3 linked regions of the Homo sapiens genome follow. The protein of the gene in region 1 purifies or fractionates together with the protein of each later gene. This does not show direct contact. Each region holds a gene or a part of one and is shown on either strand. Other genes may lie near its edges. The genes, in order: HUNK, TRAPPC6B and TRAPPC10.

What was found.
Region 2: the proteins of HUNK (region 1) and TRAPPC6B purify together in Homo sapiens (affinity purification with mass spectrometry; one large-scale study listed by BioGRID and IntAct). This does not show direct contact.
Region 3: the proteins of HUNK (region 1) and TRAPPC10 purify together in Homo sapiens (affinity purification with mass spectrometry; one large-scale study listed by BioGRID and IntAct). This does not show direct contact.

The regions. Positions count from the first base shown.
Region 1 is NC_000021.9:32,001,888-32,004,588, forward strand, and holds the end of HUNK (hormonally up-regulated neu tumor-associated kinase), read left to right. Parts: 3' UTR 1-2,177; downstream 2,178-2,701.
Region 2 is NC_000014.9:39,156,832-39,160,487, reverse strand, and holds part of TRAPPC6B (trafficking protein particle complex subunit 6B), read left to right. Parts: intron 1-937; coding exon 938-1,005; intron 1,006-2,085; coding exon 2,086-2,203; intron 2,204-2,571; exon of another isoform or gene 2,572-3,366; intron 3,367-3,656. UniProt on the Homo sapiens protein: Component of a transport protein particle (TRAPP) complex that may function in specific stages of inter-organelle traffic.
Region 3 is NC_000021.9:44,102,679-44,106,334, reverse strand, and holds part of TRAPPC10 (trafficking protein particle complex subunit 10), read right to left. Parts: intron 3,558-3,656; coding exon 3,363-3,557; intron 3,043-3,362; coding exon 2,804-3,042; 3' UTR 1-2,803. UniProt on the Homo sapiens protein: Specific subunit of the TRAPP (transport protein particle) II complex, a highly conserved vesicle tethering complex that functions in late Golgi trafficking as a membrane tether.

The sequences.
Region 1 (2,701 bases):
GGAGGAAATGTCCATTTTAATTGTATGATTTGGTCATAAGTAAGGACTATATTTATGTCACCATTATTAGATATATGTACTTTTGTAATGACTGTGAAATACACTTTTCCCTCACTACGACTGCTTCTTTATTTGCTGATAAATCTTAAAACAACTAAGTACGTTGCAAATAATAGTACAGGTACCATCTTTTATGTGAAGTTCTTTTTCTTTTTTTGAGACAGGGTCTTGCTCTGTCACCCAGGCTGGAGTGCAGTGGCACAATCACAGTTCACTGCAGCCTCAACCTCTCCAGATTCAAGTGATCCTCCCATCTCAGCCTCCCAAGTAGCTGGGACTACAGTTGTGCACCACAATGCCTAGCTAATTTTTTTTGTATTTTGTAGAAATGGGGTTTCGCCATGTTGCTCAGGCTGATCTCAAACTCCTGGGCTCCAACGATCTGCCCACCTTGGCCTCCCAAAGTGCTGAGATTACAGGCGTGAGCCACTGTGCCTGGCCTTATGTAAAGCTCTTGACCTAGCATCTGACTGGAAACAAGCGGGAATTGCATTGGGGGGCATTTTCTGGGCCAGTTTCCCTGCCTTATTTTACCTGCAATAGGTGTGCCTACAAAAGTCTTTCTGACATACACACTGCAGGTGGCAGTTCAAGAAGAATCAACCTTTTTCATTTGGGGATATTAGGATCTTCCTTGGAGACTCTGAAAATGGCACACAAAGAATGGCAGTTATGAACGTGACTTCTAGATTTTGTCCTTGTAGGAGGCCTTGGTCATGGATAGGGGAAGAGGGATGATGGGATGGAATGGGAGGGTGGGATCTAGATGACCTCTTGAAATTGTCCCAGTTACTGCTTCCTTCATAACTGTTCACAAAACGTTTTTCATATATACCACCTTGTTTCCCCTGGGAAGTGAGGGGACGAAGCCTTAGAGGGTGACATAGCTAGAAAGTGGAGAAGCTCACTGTTCACTGTGCAAAGCCCCAGTAGTCGGATTCCGGGGAAAAGAACAAGTATCTAGTTTTGATGACAATGTTTTCTTGTAAGAATCCCAACACTTTAGAATAGAAAAGGACCTAAGATTCTCTGGCTCAGCCCCAGCCTTTCTGAAGAAGGGAAAACTAGGGACCCAGATGGTTTAAGGACACCCCAGAGTCCCCAGATGAGCTGGCATTTGAGCTGGTCTGGAGCAGAGTTTCTCCCTCAAAGAACACAGAGAAATCAGAGAGTGGCTGCCATGGTCAGAGGGGGATGTCAACAACAGATCAAGCCGTCATCACAACAGGTATTTCTGAAGTTCCTGCAGGGACTAGGTCTTGCATTTTTAAGTCCTTTTCAAAACTGTGCAGCTTCCTGAACCTTATGCTGTTTGTCCCATCCACTCTTGAAGCTGGGGAAAGACAGCTTTCTTTGGGAACTCTGTCTTTCTCAGTTGACTTCCCAAGTAAGCAGCAAACCCCTGGATAGCCTTGTTATCTACTTTAGGTATTAAGAGGCTATTGGGTTTTACTAGATTAAATCAATAAAACATTTCCTATAGAGCCATATCATACACTGAAGCAAATTCAGAAAGAATGCAAAACTGCTATCTTTTGGGGGAGTCTGGAAGCCTGTTGGTTAGTGTATTTATTTTCTTTGTGGGGTCTTCTGTGAGCTACAGGCACAGTAAGAATAATTCAGAGCGGTACTGGGAGTTGGTTCAATTTCATGTCATCACTTTTCAATGAAGGGAGTGCATTTCCTGAGTAGTAAATGAGTATATTATTTGTGGCAGCTTTTCTGTTAAGGGAGCTTTCCAGACATCTGGTTGCAAAGACAAATAGGATATATATTTGTACTTCTTCTCTGTGGACATGTTTTTGTGACACACAGTTATCTCTAGGAGTTGACGTCTGTGGGCACTAAGGGACTGAGGTTGGGGGAGAAAGCTGAGGAGGCTTTGGAAGAGAAGGTGAGGAGCATTTCAGGATTTGCAGTCCCCCTCCACATGTATCCACATCTGAGCTGGTGGTGTTCCAATAATGAGGCATTTGGGGCAACCAATTTTGGAAGGATAGAATAGCTTTATGTGGAGCAAACTTGAGGATCAATTGGAGTTGAGTGGTTTAAAACTTAAAGATGGCACAGGAAGCTGTATCATTTACAGGTGAAAAAAATAAATGGGTCTGACTTCAGGGCCTCAGCTCTTTGTATTTCCTACTTGGAAGATGGGCTATTAGCAATTTTGAAAGCAAAGGCTTTGGTTTACATTTAAACTCTATAATTTTTTTTAAAAATGTGTTCTTTCTAGTCTTGTTACCATAGCCAGCTGGAAAGGGCAAATTGCAAGCCTATATTGGGAACAAGTCTTCTTGCCGAAAGTAGGGCAGTGAAGTTCTTGGCAGATCTGAGATGAGAATGCCTTCCCCTGACTCCTTCATCAGTGTTCAGTGCTCACCTCCTCTGGCAACCAGTATGCTAGAAGATTAGGCTTTGCTATGATCACAAATTAATTCCAAATCTCTGTGACTTGCCCAATAAAGGTTTATTTCTTAAAATATTTTTATGAGGCTGGGCTGACCACAAAACGGCTGTCTTCCATATGGTGACTCAGGGATCCAGGCTACATCCAACTTGTGGCTGTGTCCCCTCAAAATGAAACGTCTTTGGCTGCTCCAGCACAGGAAGGCACGGCTGGAGAGTTTTCCACCAGCCCTTA
Region 2 (3,656 bases), on another chromosome or scaffold:
TCAAGCAATCCACCTGCATCAGCCTCCAAAATGGCACATGCTACCATGCCCAGCTATTTTATTTTTACTTTTAGTACAGATGTGGTCTTGCTATGTTGCCCAGGCTGGTCTTGAGCCATTGAGCTCAAGTGATCCTCCTGCTTTGGCCTCCTAAAGTGCTGGGATTACAGGCATGAGCCACCGTGTCTTGAGGGGTTTGTTTCTATTAAAAGACTTGGTGTCAGGGAGGAGCACAAAGCTTTAACCCATTGAACCTCTGACAGTTAAGATGGTGTTGGGTTAGGTTACATCTGGTTACTATCCTGGGAAAATCACTTCTATAGAGATGGCCTTCCAAGTGGTTTTAAAATGTATCTTTCTGTCTGGGCGCGGTGGCTCACGCCTGTAATCCCTGCACTTTGGGAGGCCAAGGCAGGTGGATTGCTTGAGGTCAGGAGTTTGAGACCAGCATGGCCAACATTTTGTATTTTTGTATTTTCTCTACTAAAAATACAAAAATTAACCAGGCATGGTGGTGGGTGCTTATAATTCCAGCTACTTAGGAACCTGAGGCAGGAGAATCACTTGAACCCTGTAGATGGAGGTTGCAGTGAGCCGAGATGGCCCCACTGTACTGCAGCCTGGATGACAGAGCGAGACTCCATCTCAAAATAAATTAAAAAAATGTATCCTTCTATTGAAGTTTTTAGGTTAATCATGTATATGTTGACTAAATTATGAATTAACTTGTTTATCAAAAAAAAAGTAAAAAGTAAAGTAAGTAAAAGTAAAGTAAAATAAATAAAATCAACCTTATAATTCACTTTTTCTTAAACTGTTTCAGGGAAAAAAGTATAAATGTTTACATTAATATTTTTAACCAATCTTGTAAAACAATTTCTGAATACTAACATCCTAGCATTCTAAAAGTATTTAAAACTATTGTTTTTTAAAATAGGAAAACGGACGATGTATTACTAAGCTGGAAAACATGGGGTTTCGAGTGGGACAAGGATTGATAGAAAGGTGAGCAGGTTGGATTTGAAAATTTTCTTGCAGGTAGGTTATAAACAAAGGTGATCTATTTCAAAAGATTGCATAAAACTTGGGATATTTTAATTTTAATTCCTGAATGTTATTCTCTTTACTTCAAAAATTAAAATTTCTTTTTAGATCCAATGCCATTTAACTCATTTATTCAAATTTTATTTTAATGTTTAAAGAAAATATATATTTTATATATTTTAGACTTTCTTCCTGAAGCTATTTTAGACTTTATTCCTGAAGCTATTGAAGCAACTATCTAAAATCTTACTGCATTTTCAACTTAAGATCTGCTAGGTTCTTTAACCTGCATAGAATTTTTAAGTACATAGGTTTGAAATAACTATAGTCTATGTTTATGCGTGTAATTATCTTTGAACTTATAAATCAGTTCTTTTTAGTATTTCTTTCTCACTACCTGAATAGTTAAACTCGGAGTATATTTTATATAACAATGTCATGATAATGCTCAGCTCTTTGTTCTTTTGTGGTTTTTTGATGTGCTAGAATGCATTGCACCTGAAATTTTGGCTATAATGTTAGACTAATTTGAGGCCTCATAATTTATATAACATAATGTGAATCCATTGAGATAGGATCATGTTACCTGGTGCTTATGACTTTATTAGTGTTAATAAATGTTCAGCCAGGTGTGGTGGCTCATGCCTGTAATCCCAGCACTTTGTGAGGCCAAGGTGGGAGAATCTCTTGAGCTCAGGAGTTTGAGACCAGCCAGGGTAACAAAGTGGAACCCTGTCTCTACAAAGATATACAGATTAGCTGAGCATGGTGACATGTGCCTGTGGTCTCAGCTGCTAGGGAGGCTGAGGTGGGAGGATAGCTTGAGCCTGGGAGGGAGGTAGACGTTGCAATGAGCCGAGATTATGCTATTGCACTCTAACCTGGGCGACAGAGCCAGAATCTGTCTCAAAAAAAAAATTAAAATTAAAAAACCCAATAAATGTTCAGTGCTGTTCTGGCATTTGGAAATTAGTTAATAATTAGTCCCTCTTGCTTTTTTTGGAGGAGAAATACTGTATTACTTCTAGTTGATCTTTTTAGGTTTACAAAAGATACTGCAAGGTTCAAGGATGAGTTAGATATCATGAAGTTCATTTGTAAAGATTTTTGGACTACGGTATTCAAGAAACAAATCGACAATCTAAGGACAAATCATCAGGTAATTAAATTAATTAAGGCCTATATTTTAAAGTCCTTTAACTTGATATAAATATCGTATTTTAGTGACTTATTTAAAACCTAAAATAATTTCTGGTTAACTTTGGAATATGTTTATGTTATTAATGAGTTATTAGTTTTTTTCTTCTAATAGTGTGAACTGAGTAAAGACAAAGGGACAGTTATCAGTAATGATAGCTGTTCCTTTCACCCAATTATATGCTATGTTAAGTTTTTTAAAGTAGCATAAGTCAGGATGAGAATAGCTTTTACTATTTGGTTCCTTAGTTACTGTTAATTAGTGGTAATAATATGCAGAACCACAAATATATCACCTTTATGTCTTTAGAGTCATTTCTTTTTTTTGAAGAAGAAGAATTTGGATTATTTTAATTATTTTTATATACAGAAAACTCAACAGTGTATGTTTAACCCAGTTTGGTGTCAAGTTCTTTAGCCTTTGCCTTTTCCTGCTTGACAATTCAAGCCACAGACTTGAGACCCAGGACATTGCCTCCCCAGTGACAGTGGATTTCGTTTTGTCTGTCGTAATTGGTTCTGATAGCTTCCACCAGCTGAACCTAAGCTCCATTGTCCTCTGAGTTAATCTGTGTAAAGGCGACAGTGGTGCGGGTCTTCTTGTGGATTAGACATCCCAGTCTTGCCTTCCCCTTGATAATGCGGTAAGGGACCCCCATTTTATGACACAAGGCAGGCAGGAAGACAGCCACCTCGATGGGATCCACATAGTGTGCAGTCACCACCAGCTGAGCCTTCTTGTTCTCCTCCAAGGTGGAGATGGTGTTAACTCCTGCTCGGAGGACAAGTGGTCTCTTAGTGGGGACATCCCCTTTGCCTGCAGCTTTCTTTTCAGCCCGGGCCAATAGCCTCTGCTTATTTTCTTGCTTTGTCTTTGGTCTGTACTTGTGGGCCAGCTTAAGCAGCTAAGTAGCTATTTGGCGGTGCAGGGCCTGGGTGAACTGGTTAATTGTAGGAGGCACTTTCAGCTGCTTACAGAGGATGGCTTTGTGCCACTGCAACCTGATATAGCGGGGCCATTTCACAAAGTGAGTGAGGTCCATATTGGGTGGATGTCCTGTCCAATGCCAGAATTCTTAGGCCTTTTCTCAAACAGGGGATTCACCACTTTCTTTCTTTCTTTTTTTTTTTTTTTTTTTTGAGATGGAGTCTTGCTGTGTTGCCCAGGCTAGAGTGCAATGGTGCGATCTCGGCTCACCACAACCTCCGCCTCCTGGGTTCAAGCCATTCTGCCTCAGGCTCCCAGGTAGCTGGGACTACAGGCATGTGCCACCACTCCGGCTAATTTTTGTATTTTTAGTAGAGGTGGGGTTTCACCATGCTGGCCAGGCTGGTCTCGAACTCCTGACCTCAAGTGATCCGCTTGTCTCGGCCTCCCAATGTGCTGGGAGTACAGACGTGAGCCACCACGCCCA
Region 3 (3,656 bases), about 12 Mb from region 1:
ACAGCCTGATGTATATAGGATGAATAAATGTAGAGAAAGGAGCATTTTCATGAAAAATAAAATTTAAAAACCAGGTAGGATTTATTTTAAAGAACACAGTTGAAAGTAAAACATTTACATCAGCCCAGTTTGCCCTTTTGTAAAAAGTAGTATAGCTTTTCATTTTATATACAAACCTGCAGTGTCTGATTTCATTTTAAAACTTAATTTTAAGCACTAAAGAAAATTTGAATAGAAGCCTGTGTGTATTTTCTCTGCTAATTCTGTATGGGATATCTGGCATCTCCACTAAGAGTAATTAATACAGGATCTGACCTTCCTAGGCTGTGCTGACAATGGAACTGTTGTAGGTAAAGTCATTTTCAGATTAAATACAACAATTTCCACATTAGAATCAGAAGAGTTATAATTTTTCCAATCATAGGACATCCCATGAAATTCACAAAAATTATAACTTATTTTATTTTCCATTTGACAGTATTTACATGTTCCACAGATATTTGTAAAACGGCTGCAAATTCCTTGCTTTTCAGATACACATTGCATATCTGGCTTCACAATTATTTAACATCTCTTTATCAACAAAACCAGCTTGTCTCAAACACATACACCTTACTTTAGATAAAAACAATAAACATCCAATTACAGTTACTCTTTTAGGACTTTTATGATGAACATTAAGAAAAAAATGACAATTTTGGGTGACATTCTTCTTTGTCTTAAAGAGGCAGAAGCATTCATGTAACATAGTTTGCAAAAGATCTTTTGGGTAATTAGGGGGAAAAAAACTGATAAATTTGATTTCATTTCATTTCCAGGCAATTAAGCGCCGTAAACATTTTAAATTTCCCCTTCACTTTCTTCCTCTAAATATATATGTAGTTGGATAATTTCATCCTGGGAGTAGAACCAGATACAAGAAAATCAAACAGTAATAAATGAAACATTCCCTCTTCCAGAAGGTAAGAGAGAAAGCTACATTACACTGGGGAAGGCTCCCAGGCTGACGACACGGATTACAGTCTCTTCTGACGGAATCAAATCTCCCATCTCTTTATTCACAGGACTTGGTAGAAATGCAGGGCAATCGTCAATTTTTACAATAAAAAACCTTATTTTAGAAACCCTAAACTATCATTAGATTCTGAAGTTCTAATTTGCTAACTAGTTTGACCAAGTTTGTTAAACTGCACATGAGGAAGATAAATTTCTGGAAAGTTTAATTACACAATTATTTATCTTCTTTACACGTCTCCAGTTTCTACAAATGAAAAAGACAGGAGGAAAAAAAAATCACACCACCTTTATTTATTGAATGAGCTAAAAGACAACACAGAGAATACTGGAAATGACGGCTGTCATATTTCCCCGGTCTGTGCCTCCTTCCTCCCATGCCCCACCGCCTCCCGCAAGCACAGTGCTGGGCAGGAACCCGGTGCTCCTTCTCTCCACAACTTGCACATCCACGGGGATTCACACGAGGGCCACCCACTGCTGGACCCGACTCTATCTGCTTGAGCTAATCTTGTCAAGTTCAATTCCAAGCACATTTGCCCAGTAAATTAAGAGTACTCTATTTCAAGTGTACAAAAATACATCGCTTTGGAGAACTGGAAAAGGTTTAATACATACAACACTTATTTACAAGCTGTGACTTTCACACCTGTAAAAACAAACACACTTATTTTTGTCCTTGATTTTTGGTGCAACTTATACATAAACATTACATCAGTTAGTCTGTATTTTTAAAAATAATAAATCAACCATATGTACAATTAAATTTACAACCGAAAGCAAATAATCCATTGGAACAGTGTGACTGCAACTCAGTAGACCAGTGGAGGACATTCCAGGACTTGAGTCCTTCCCTACAACCAGACCAAAAACACACTGAGGACCTCTCTCATCCTCACGATGGAATATCTTAATTTCTAAGACTTAAGATGCAAAAGAAAAATAACGATTATACAGCTACAATTACATGTAAAGACTTTAAAGGGACAGAAAAACAACATATTAACCCCCACATATATAATGATCATTAAATTAAATATATTTAACTCCCAGTGCATATGATATTCTATCAACATTATGGGGGACCACAGGGTTCCAGAAACATTTATCCCTAAACCACCTCACCGCTGAGGCGCTCCTCACAGCCGGGTCTCAGCTTTCTTCAGTACCTTTCACGTGGCTCCGGCTGATGGGCCTCCAGGTCCCCCAGCTCCGGCATCCCAAGGCACAGAAGGGGTTATGATCCCTCCCTCCCCCACCCGCCTCCCCTAGAAGGGTGTTATTCTAGAAAAGCACAATGAGAGGATCTGCGGTAAACGGCTGTTTTACCCCTTAGGGGACACAAATCCACCCCGATCAGGAAACTGGGCAGCTGTGTGACCAGAAAGGCACACACGTCACTAAGACCGTGAGGGCTGCTGAGTGTCTACCTGAAAGACAAATGGCCTTCCACGAAGAGCCAGCAGACGGAGGCTGTTCCGTGGAGACAGCGTGGGTGGAAACTTTCATGAGCAGCGTGTGAGGTAGGGGGAGGGAGGCCAGGGCTCTGAGTAAGCGGCGTCGGACACCAGCATGGGGACGGGGTGAGAAAAGCAGGAATCTGAGATCACAGGCGGCATGAAAACAACAACAGAACTCAGCTGGCCAGCTGCGTGATGACACTCTCTGATGTCCCCACGGCCAGGCAGGACCACTGAAGGTCTGGCTGGAGCCAGAACGGAAGAGTCCAGTCACAGTCCCATAAAGTGCACTCCTAGCTGGGAAGTGGCGTGTGTTCACCCTGGCGTTGTCATGTTACACTGACTTCCAGGACGTGGTCATCTTGGCTGGGGATGACCAGGACTTGTGTGCCCGAGCTGGAGTTGAAGACCTGGCCGGCCGGCAGTGCCTGCAGCCGGGGCATGGGTAGGCCTTTGTGCTCGCTGCTGCAGGCCGAATGCACGCTGCCCCTGCTCTTGAGGCTGCTGCTGTCCGGCTGGTCGTCCCCGTGCTTGTCTACTGACAGGCTGTCGTTTTCTATCCAGCTGTCTGCAAAACACACAGGAAGTTAGACCCAAGCTGCGCCGACACTCACCTGGGGACGGGCAAAGCCACACGGAGCCAGGCTGAACGTGCAGAATGCCACCCGAGGCTGCCCCTTTACAGAGCACTCTGTGCACAGAGGCTTGGCTTTCAGAGCAGGTGCCTAAGATTCTAACAGCGGATGAGGCTTCTAGTACCAGTTTCTACCGGCACTGAAAACACGCCGCTAGTTCTCCAACCTGCTCAGTCATAAGTTTATCACCTCTCGCACAAAGTGCTCACCTGCTCAAATACTGAAGGTAAACTTTTTCTTCCAAAGTCCTTACCAGCGTCCAGTTGGGAGGAGTGTGCAGAATGATGGGGGAGGTACTTGAACAGCCTGACGTCGGGCAGGGGGAGATACCCGGCGAAGAGCGGCATCACTTCCATGTGGACCCTGTGAGTGGCCCGAGCAGCCACTGGCATGGAGATGACACCGCAGCTTTTCCCACACACTGCCCAGTTGCTACTGTTGTCGACAACTGAAACGAGAGGAAGCGATGTGTCATCCAGGACGGGCCTTCCAGTACTCAGGCGAGAGTCACGGCCGTCGTTACCCAATCCTCTCACCCAACGCTGTC